2 separate regions of the Homo sapiens genome follow, and region 2 is linked to region 1. The links come from fine-mapping of genetic effects on gene expression. Tissue or cell type: whole blood. Region 1 holds a variant in brackets; the other region holds the start of a gene. All regions are shown on one strand. Distances are from middle to middle.

The links. PIP is the estimated chance that this variant, and not a neighbour inherited with it, causes the effect.
Region 2: it holds the start of KLHDC10, and the variant in region 1 is fine-mapped to the expression of KLHDC10 in whole blood (TOPMed, PIP above 0.99). The same link has a PIP of 0.9 or more in fibroblasts.

The regions. Positions count from the first base shown.
Region 1 is chr7:130,115,233-130,119,232 of GRCh38, reverse strand. KLHDC10 (kelch domain containing 10) reads right to left here. Exons shown (of 10, transcript NM_014997.4): 3 at 2,567-2,788. Among named protein-coding and RNA genes, the nearest start is that of LINC03008, 24 kb to the left of the region's middle. The variant T/C (reference allele first, on the strand shown) is at 1,689.
Region 2 is chr7:130,067,528-130,072,147 of GRCh38, reverse strand. It overlaps KLHDC10 (kelch domain containing 10), which reads right to left and starts at 1,614. Exons shown (of 10, transcript NM_014997.4): 1 at 1,339-1,614. The coding sequence starts at 1,504. RefSeq lists a silencer at 1,410-1,579 and enhancers at 1,680-1,869, 1,900-2,099.

The sequences.
Region 1 (4,000 bases):
AGCCTTTATTTATTTTTTTTTTTTTGAGTTGGAGTCTTGCTGTCTTGCCTAGCTGGAGTGCAGTGGCATGAACATGGCTCACTGCAGCCTTGAACTCCTGGGCTTAAGTGATCCTCCCACCTCAGATGTCCAGGTAGCTGGGACTATATGTACAGGCCACTATGCCCAGCTAATTTTTTTTTTTTAAGAGACAGGGTCTTGCTACATTGCCCAGGCTGGTCTCGAACTCCTGACCTCAAGTGATCCTCCCTCCTTGGCCTCCTAAATTGCTGGGATTACAGGCCTGAGCCACCACGCCAGCACTGATCAGCGATCTTTGATGTTACTATTGTAACTGTTTTGAGGTGCCATGAACCACGCCCATATAAAACAGTGAACTTAATAAATGCTGTGAGAGTTTTGACTGCACCAATCAGCCATTCCCTCATCTTTTTCCCTCTCCTCAGGCCTCCCTATTCCCTGAGACACAACAAGATTGAAATTAGGCCAGTGAATAACCTTACAATGGCCTCTGAGTATTGAAGTGAAAGGAAGAGTCTACCGTATCTAACTTTAAATCAAAAGCTAGAATTGACTAAGCTTAGTGAGGAAGGCATGTGGAAAGCAAAGGCAGGCGAAAGCTAGGCCTCTTTCAACAGTTAGCCGAATTGTGAATGCAAAGGAAAAGTTCTTGATGGAAATTAAAAGTACTACTCCAGTGAACACACGAATGATAAGGAAGCAAAACAGCCTTATTGCTGATATGCAGAAAGTTTAAGTGGTCTGGACAGAAGATCAACTACAACATTCCCTTTAGGCCAAAGCCTAATTCAGAGCAAGGCCCTGACTCTCTTCGATTCTATAAAGGTGGGGAGAGGTAAGGAAGCTGCAGAAGAAATGTTGGAAGCTAGCAGAGGTTGGTTCAAGAGGTTTCAGGAAAGAAGCCATCTCCATAACATAAAAGTACAAAGTGAAGCAGCAAGTGCTGATGCAGAAGCTACAGCAAGTTATCCAGAAGATCTAGCTAAGTGGCTACACTAAACAACAGATTTTTAATTTTTTTTATTTTTATTTTTTTTGAAACGGAGTCTCACTCTTATTGCCCAGGCTGGAGTGCAGTGGGGCGATCTTGGCTTATTGCAACCCCCACCTTCCCAGGTTCAAGGGATTCTCCTGCCTCAGCCTCCTGAGTAGCTGGGATTACTGGCGCCTGCCACCATGCCCAGCTAATTTTTTTTGTGTGTGTGTTTTTTGTAGAGACAGGGTTTCACCATGTTGGCCAGGCTGGGTCTCAAACTCCTGACCTCATGATCCGCCCGCCTCAGCCTCCCAAAGTGCTGGGATTACAGGTGTGAGCCACCATGCCCGGCCTCTTTTTCTTTTTTTTTTTTTTTTTTTTTTTTTGAGACAGGGTCTTACTCTGTCACCCAGGCTGGAATGCAGTGGCATGATCACAGCTTCTGCAGCCTCAACCTCCTGGGCTCCAGCCATTCTCCCACCTCAGCCTCCCAAGTAGCTGGGAATACAGTCGTGCAACACCATGCCTGGTTAATTTTTTTATTTTTTGTAGAGAAAAGGTCTCACTATGTTGCCCAAGCTGGTCTTCAACTCCTGGGCTCCAGCGATCCTCCTGCCTCGGCCTCCCAAAGTGCTGGGATTACAGGCATGAGTCACTGTGCTCAGTGAAAGTGGTTTCTTGAGATAGAATC[T/C]ACTCCTAGTGAAGATGCTGTGAACACTGTTGAAATGACAAGAAAGGATTTAGAATATCACTTAAACTTAGTTGATTAAGCAGTGGCAGGGTTTGAGAGGACTTGACTCCAATTTTGAAAGAAGCTCTACTCTGGGTAAAATGCTATCAAACAGCATTAAATGCTACAGAGAAATCTTTTGTGAAAGGAAGAGCCAATTGATGCAGCAAACTTCAATGCTGTCTTAAGAAATTGCCACAATCACCCCAACCTTCAGCAACCACCACCCTGATAAGTCAGCTGCCACCAACATCAAGACAAAACCCTCCACCAGCAAAAAAGATTACAACTCGCTGAAGGCTCAGATGGTTGTTAGCACTTTTTAGCAATAAAGTATTTTTAATTAAGGTATGTAGTTTTTTAGAGATAATGCTATTGCACATGAAAGAGACTAGTGCATAGCGTAAACATAACTTTATATGCACTAGGAAACCAAAAATGTTGTGTGACTTGCTTTATTTTGGTGGTTTGAAACTAAACCCAGGACATCTCTGAGGTATGCCTGTACTTTGCTCAACAGCTATTAACTGTCATCGTCATAAGCCCCATTTGTTGACCTTCTACTGCGTGATACTTTATATTGAACCCTCTAAGATATTATTAATCCCATTTTGCAAGTTAGGAAATTAAAGCTAAAACTCACCTGACAAGCTGAATTCAAACTCAGGACCCAAATAATTTGGAATCACCATACTGTTATTACCCTAGTAAAAAGCCTATCCACCCACAGGGCGAAATCACATTATAGTGTTATAAATTATTAATGAGGAATATGGGACATTGAACCTGGCTTCTCAGACATTTCATAAAGTCAGGAGTTACGAACTGCTTGCACTCACGTGACATAGATGCCAATTCCCGGGGCATGTAGCCATCTGTGCCCATCTGGTGCCATACTCCTGTAGCAAAATGATACCTCCAGAGTTCCCTGAAGAGAGGATAGTCTTCATTATCAGGCCCTCCCGATTCATCATAATCTGGGTTATAACCTCCAAACACATATAGGTTGGTATTATCTGCCACACAACGATGTCCACTTCGTGCTGGTGGAGGTCTGTGGCCTAGGAGAGAAGAGGACAGTTTTCCACAGGTGTCCTACCAGTTTAAAAGCACAAACAAAATTAGGTAACAACCATTTTAGCCATAAAAGGGGACCAGGAAGGATTTATAACATGGATATACTTCTTATTTGTTTAGATTTATAACATGGATATACTTCCTAATAATACTTCTTATGCACATATACTACTTAAGATTTTAAGGAGCTAGTCTCTACTTCTATTTTTTATGACTACCTTCAGATTTTGATAACTGTAAAAAGCATGACAAATTCAAGAAAATGGCTGACAACTTGAAATTTTCAAGAAAAGAAGGAGGAAAGATTTAATAATCCAAAAGCTAACAGGACAAGTTTTCTTATTTCCTTAGAGGAGAAAAAAACACAGGCCAACTAAATTAAACTGTGAATATTAGAGAACTAAATAAATATAATCACGAATATGAATGAGTCATGTATAAATAAAAATACACACACACAAAATCTATGATTTTTCCACAAGATATAATTATACACTTACAATGAAAACTGGCTGTTAAGGAGTTACAGTAAAATTTTGACTTTAAATAACATCCCGGATATTATGGAGGTTAACAAAGAATCTCCTTATATTTATCTCAGAGAGCATCTTTCATCCTATTAAGAGCTTTACTAAGAAAAGCTATTCCTACAGTTTAAATTTGAAAGTGTCCTGAAGTCTAAATTATATCAACTTTTTTTTTTTTTTTTTTTTTGAGACCAAGTCTCACTCTGTCACCCAGGCTGGAGTGCAGTGGCGCGATCTCAGCTCACTGCAACCTCTGCCTCCCAGGTTCAAGCAATTGTCCTGCCTCAGCCTCCCAAGTAGCTGGGATTATAGGTGCCCGCCACCATGCCTGGCTAATTTTGTGTTTTTAGTAGAGACAGGGTTTCTCCATGTTGGTCAGGCTGGTCTTGAACTCCTGACCTCAGGTGATCAGCCTGCCTTGGCCTCCCAACATCCTGGGATTACAGGTACGAGCTACTGCACCCGGTCTCAACTAGTTTACTAAAAATTACTTCAAGGTTATTTTAGAGTAAAAAAAAACAAAAAACAAAAAACTTTATTGTAGTTTCTGTTATCCTTAAAATGTTTATACCAATCTATACAAACCCTTGCCCAACTTCAGAACCAAAGATGCTTAAATACATATTGGATGGAATAAGAAGCTACTATAGTTGTGACCCTAAAGATGAA
Region 2 (4,620 bases), 47 kb after region 1:
ATTATTAATTGGGAGTAAGAAAAAAGATTGCTCCTTTTTTCTTTTTCATGTTAAAGATCGTATATTTAGCAATTCTAGGATGCCCAGTCTGATATTAACGTCTCAAACCCAACTTCTGGTATATTATATGACTACTTACAAATGCCTCGATTTAATGCATATAAATGGGGTAATGTACATTTCTAGCACACATCAACAACCTCATCACGAACATAAGCAATTGTCTCATTAAATGTGCTAAATTCCCTTTGTCATCTTCAATTTAATCAAATAATAATTTTTGACTAGAAGTATAAGGTACAGTCTTAAGCACAATTCATAAAAACCAATTCATCATGTTCTCAAAACTCATCAGCTAAACAAATATATCACTAATATAATCAATATTATTCACAAAAAACACGATGAATAATTAACACATCATTCCTGATAGTTCTTTTCATAGTAAAAATAAGCTTGCCCAGTGGGATATTTGACGTTCTCTGCATTATTTAATTCCCTACCTTCCTTCTACTAGATTGAATATTCAATTACAAACATACCTCTTTAAAATTGTCTACACATACATATCCACTTGATTTTATTTTGTTTTCAAAAGCATCTGAACTCAAGGCTAGGGCACTGTAGACCAAAATGTCAAATAATTGTATTGGGTACATTTTTCCAATTCTCAGTTGTTTTTATATTGTAAACACAGCATAATTGTGTCACTAAGTATATTTTTGATCTTCACTTTCTCCCCTTAAAACCTAGACACCATTATCCTGTCTCTGAACATTCCAAAATATTAATAATCCAACTAGTTTTCCCTAATCCTCTAGGTTCTCTTTCCCATACACTCCCCAGCCAACACTCCCCCACCCCTTTCTTCCGTTTCAGAATGCCTCTTACACACACGCCCCGTGTAGTTTTTACAAAATCACTCCTTGGAATGCGTTTCCTTCTTCTCTCCTTAACTTGGCACCCTTTTTGAAATAATTTCCCACAGCTAGGCGCCAATGTCTTTCATTTACAAGATCAAACTGCGGAAGGGGAAGAGATTGGGAATCGAGTAACCGAAACATTTGGAAATGTCAATGAGACAGTGGCCTCTCCTTTGAAAAGAAAACACAACTCTCAGCACAGAGCTTTCAACAGAGCACAGATACTTTTCTTCGCTGTGCTCCTGTTCCCTCCCTGACCTCAAAGACACCTTCCCTTTTCTCTGATCCCCAGTCCCTCTGCTATGCGTGGGGCCTGCCTTTCCTCCTCCCAAGGAAAAGCAAGCCAGGGAGAAAAAGAAAAGGTAGCAGTCACCTTCCCGCCCGCAAGCGGTCAGGACCCTGTCCCACGACTCACCTGGCAGGTGCGGCCGCCCGGAGAGTTGCACGAAGCGGTTGAGCTGGCCAGTCCCCCGACCCCCGCTGCCCCCACTGCCCCCGCCGGCCCCGCTACCTCCGCCACCAGCGCCGGCGGCGCCTCCTCCCCTCCGGCGGTTCCTGTCCCAGCCCTGGGCGGCCGACATGACCCGCTAACGATTGCCGCAGCCCGGTCCCGTCAGCGCCTGACCCAGCGGAACCAGCGGAGCCTCCTTCCTGGGCTCCTCCAGAGACCCAGGAGACAGGGGAAGGGGGCAGCGCCCGGTCCCACCAGAGACCAATGACTTACCGCCTTGGTGAAAGGCAGCCAATGGTCAGTCGTTTTCTTGGTAGGTGGCGGGAGGCGGAGAGAAACGTGGTAACCATAGCTATGGCTAAAAAAAAAAAAGTAGGGGGAGAGAAAGGCAGAAGCAGCCACTCCTAGCTCTCATCGTCCGCTCTGGGCTGGCCGGCGTCACCCCGACTCCTGCGGGGCCAGGCGGGCCAATCGAAGACCGAGTGTCAGAGGCCGCGCCTGCGGAAAGACTCCCGGGGACGGCCAGTGCCTCAGTCTTGGTTAGGATTCAGGAACTTTTTCCCATAAACATTGCAATCAGACACTGGATATACGCATAATACACATATTTGGGGGCAAGACGGTATTCTGCCAGCTTTTCAGATTGAGATCCCATTCACTGATGGTTGACACACACAAAGGGCTTGCTTGGGGTCCGGGTAGGTGAGGGGACCCAGGGGCGGAGTCAAAGCTAAAATGTAAGAACCAGATATTCCTGGGTTTCATTTGTCTTTCAGTCGGCTTAGCTGCATTTGTCCCTGTATAAGCCACGTCCCAATCAAACAGTTTTAAACCTGGTTAACAAATATGGGAAAATGTTCACTCTCACCTGTAATCTTAGAAATACAAAATAAAACCCCAATGAGAAACCATTTCTGGTTTATTACATCAGTAAAGACTTTTCAAATAACACCTGGCAGTGTGTGGAATGCCAAGAAAAAGGTATTCTCATAGATGGCTGATGGCTCTGTAAATATTTTTGTTCGCTCAAACTCCTTTTGGCTAGTAGAAAATTTTAATCAGCTTGGAAGATATATAATCAAGAGGAAATGTAAAATTAAATAAAAGGCAGCAACGGGTATGGAAGATCAAGATCAAAGAAAATTTTTAATGTGCCGATCAGGAGTTTCTATTGTTCCAAAATTAAACAGAAATTTTGGCTTGAAACTTACTGGGCGCAATGCAGACTGGGAAAACATACTATACACTGATGTTTCTGAATGATAAGGAAAAAGCATATCAAATTCCTCAAGGGAAACAAAACTTTTCAAGGTCCTTAGATGTGACAGATTTTTTTTTCTTTTGCATTAGAAGAACCTTACATGGTTGCAGAGAAAAAAAAGAAACTCTGCTGGAGCTGAGGACAAATACCCTTTGTACCTGGTGTGCAAATTTCTGGTCGCCACTGGCACTGCCTCCTTGTTTTCCTACTTCCAGTCCCTGTAGGCAGAAATGTTTTAGTCACTAGCACCATAGCACGCTGCTTATGAAAATGTTTGAGACTTGAAAAAAAAAAAAGCCTATGGTTCTAAAATATAAAAACCAAAATTAATATATGTTAACTGTTTTTTTTTTTTTTTGAGACGGAGTCTTACTCTGTCGCCGAGACTGGAGTGCAGAGGCATGATCTCGGTTCACTGCAACCTCTGCCTCCCAGGTTCAAACAATTCTCCTGCCTCAGCCTCCCAAGTAGCTGGGATTACAGGCATGTGCCACCACGCTCTGCTAATTATATTTTTAGTAGAGATGGGTTTTCACCATGTTGGTCAGGCTGGTCTCCAACTCCCCATCTCAGGTAATCCACCTGCCTTGGCCTCCCAAAGTGATGGGATTACAGGTGTGAGCTGCTGCGTCTGGCCAGTTTTTTATGTATATAGGCAAAATGCAGTCTTACACATTTTACATGTTTAACCTGTCTAATCCTCACAGAAATCCTATGAAATGCTGTTTTCCCAATTTGCAAAGCAAATTTGTAGAGATAGGGCAGTGTGTGGGGATGAGGGGGTGGTTTTGCCTTGTTGCTCCGGCTAGTCTAGAACTCCTGGCCTCAAGCCATCCTCCTGCCTTGGCCTTCTAAAGCATTGGGTTATAGGCATGAGCACCACGCCCAGCCAAAGTAGATTCTTAAGTAACACTTTTTAATTAATCAACTGGGAGAGATGAAATAAGAAAATAACATATAAAGTTTTGGTTGGGCGCGATGGCTCATGTCTGTAATCCTAACACTTTCTGTAATCCCAACCCTTTGGGAGGCCGAGGTGGGTGGATCACCTGAGGTCAGGGGTTCAAGACCGCCTGGCCAACATGGTGAAACCCGGTCTCTACGAAAAATTCAAAAAAATTAGCCAGGCGTGGTGGTGGGTGCCTGTAATCCCAGCTACTCGGGAGGCTGAGGCACGAGAATTGCTTGAACCCGGGAGGCAGAGGTTGCAGTAAGCCGAGATCGTGCCATTTTCACTCCAGCCTGGGCGACAAAGCAAGACTCCGTCTCAAAAATACATACATACATACATACATACATACATACATACATACATACATACATACAATGGCCGGGTGCGGGGGCTTACGCCTGTAATCCCAGCACTTTGGGAGGCCGAGGGGGGCGGATCACGAGGTCAGGAGAGGGAGACCATCCTGGCTAACACGGTGAAACCCCGTCTCTACTAAAAATATTTAAAAAAAAAAAATTAGTCTGGCGTGGCGGCCCGCGCCTGCAATCCCAGCTACTCTGGAGGCTGAGGCAGGGGAATCGCTTGAACCTGGAAGGCGGAGGTTGCAGTGAGCCAAGATAGCGCCGCGGCACTCCGGCCTGGGCAACAGAGCGAGACTCGTCTCAAAAAAAATAAATAAATAAAAATAAAATAAAATAAAATAACATAACATAACATAAAAAGTTTTAGTAGTCCCAAGATTTGGCTCAGTAGCTATATGGGTAACTGCTATGATTCGAATGTGTCCCCCACAGTTCATGTGTTGGAAACTTAATCCCCAATGCAACAATCTGGAGAAGTGGAACCTTTAAGAATGATTAGTACCTGAAGGTTCTGCCCTCATGAATGGATTAATGCTGTTATGGCGGGAATGGGTTAGTTATCTCAGGAGTGGGTTCCCAATAAAAGGATAACTTTGGTGCCTCTCTCTCTCTCCCTTTCTCTCTCTCTTCCTCCTTCTCTCTGCCTTTCCCTTTCACTCTCTCTCACCCAA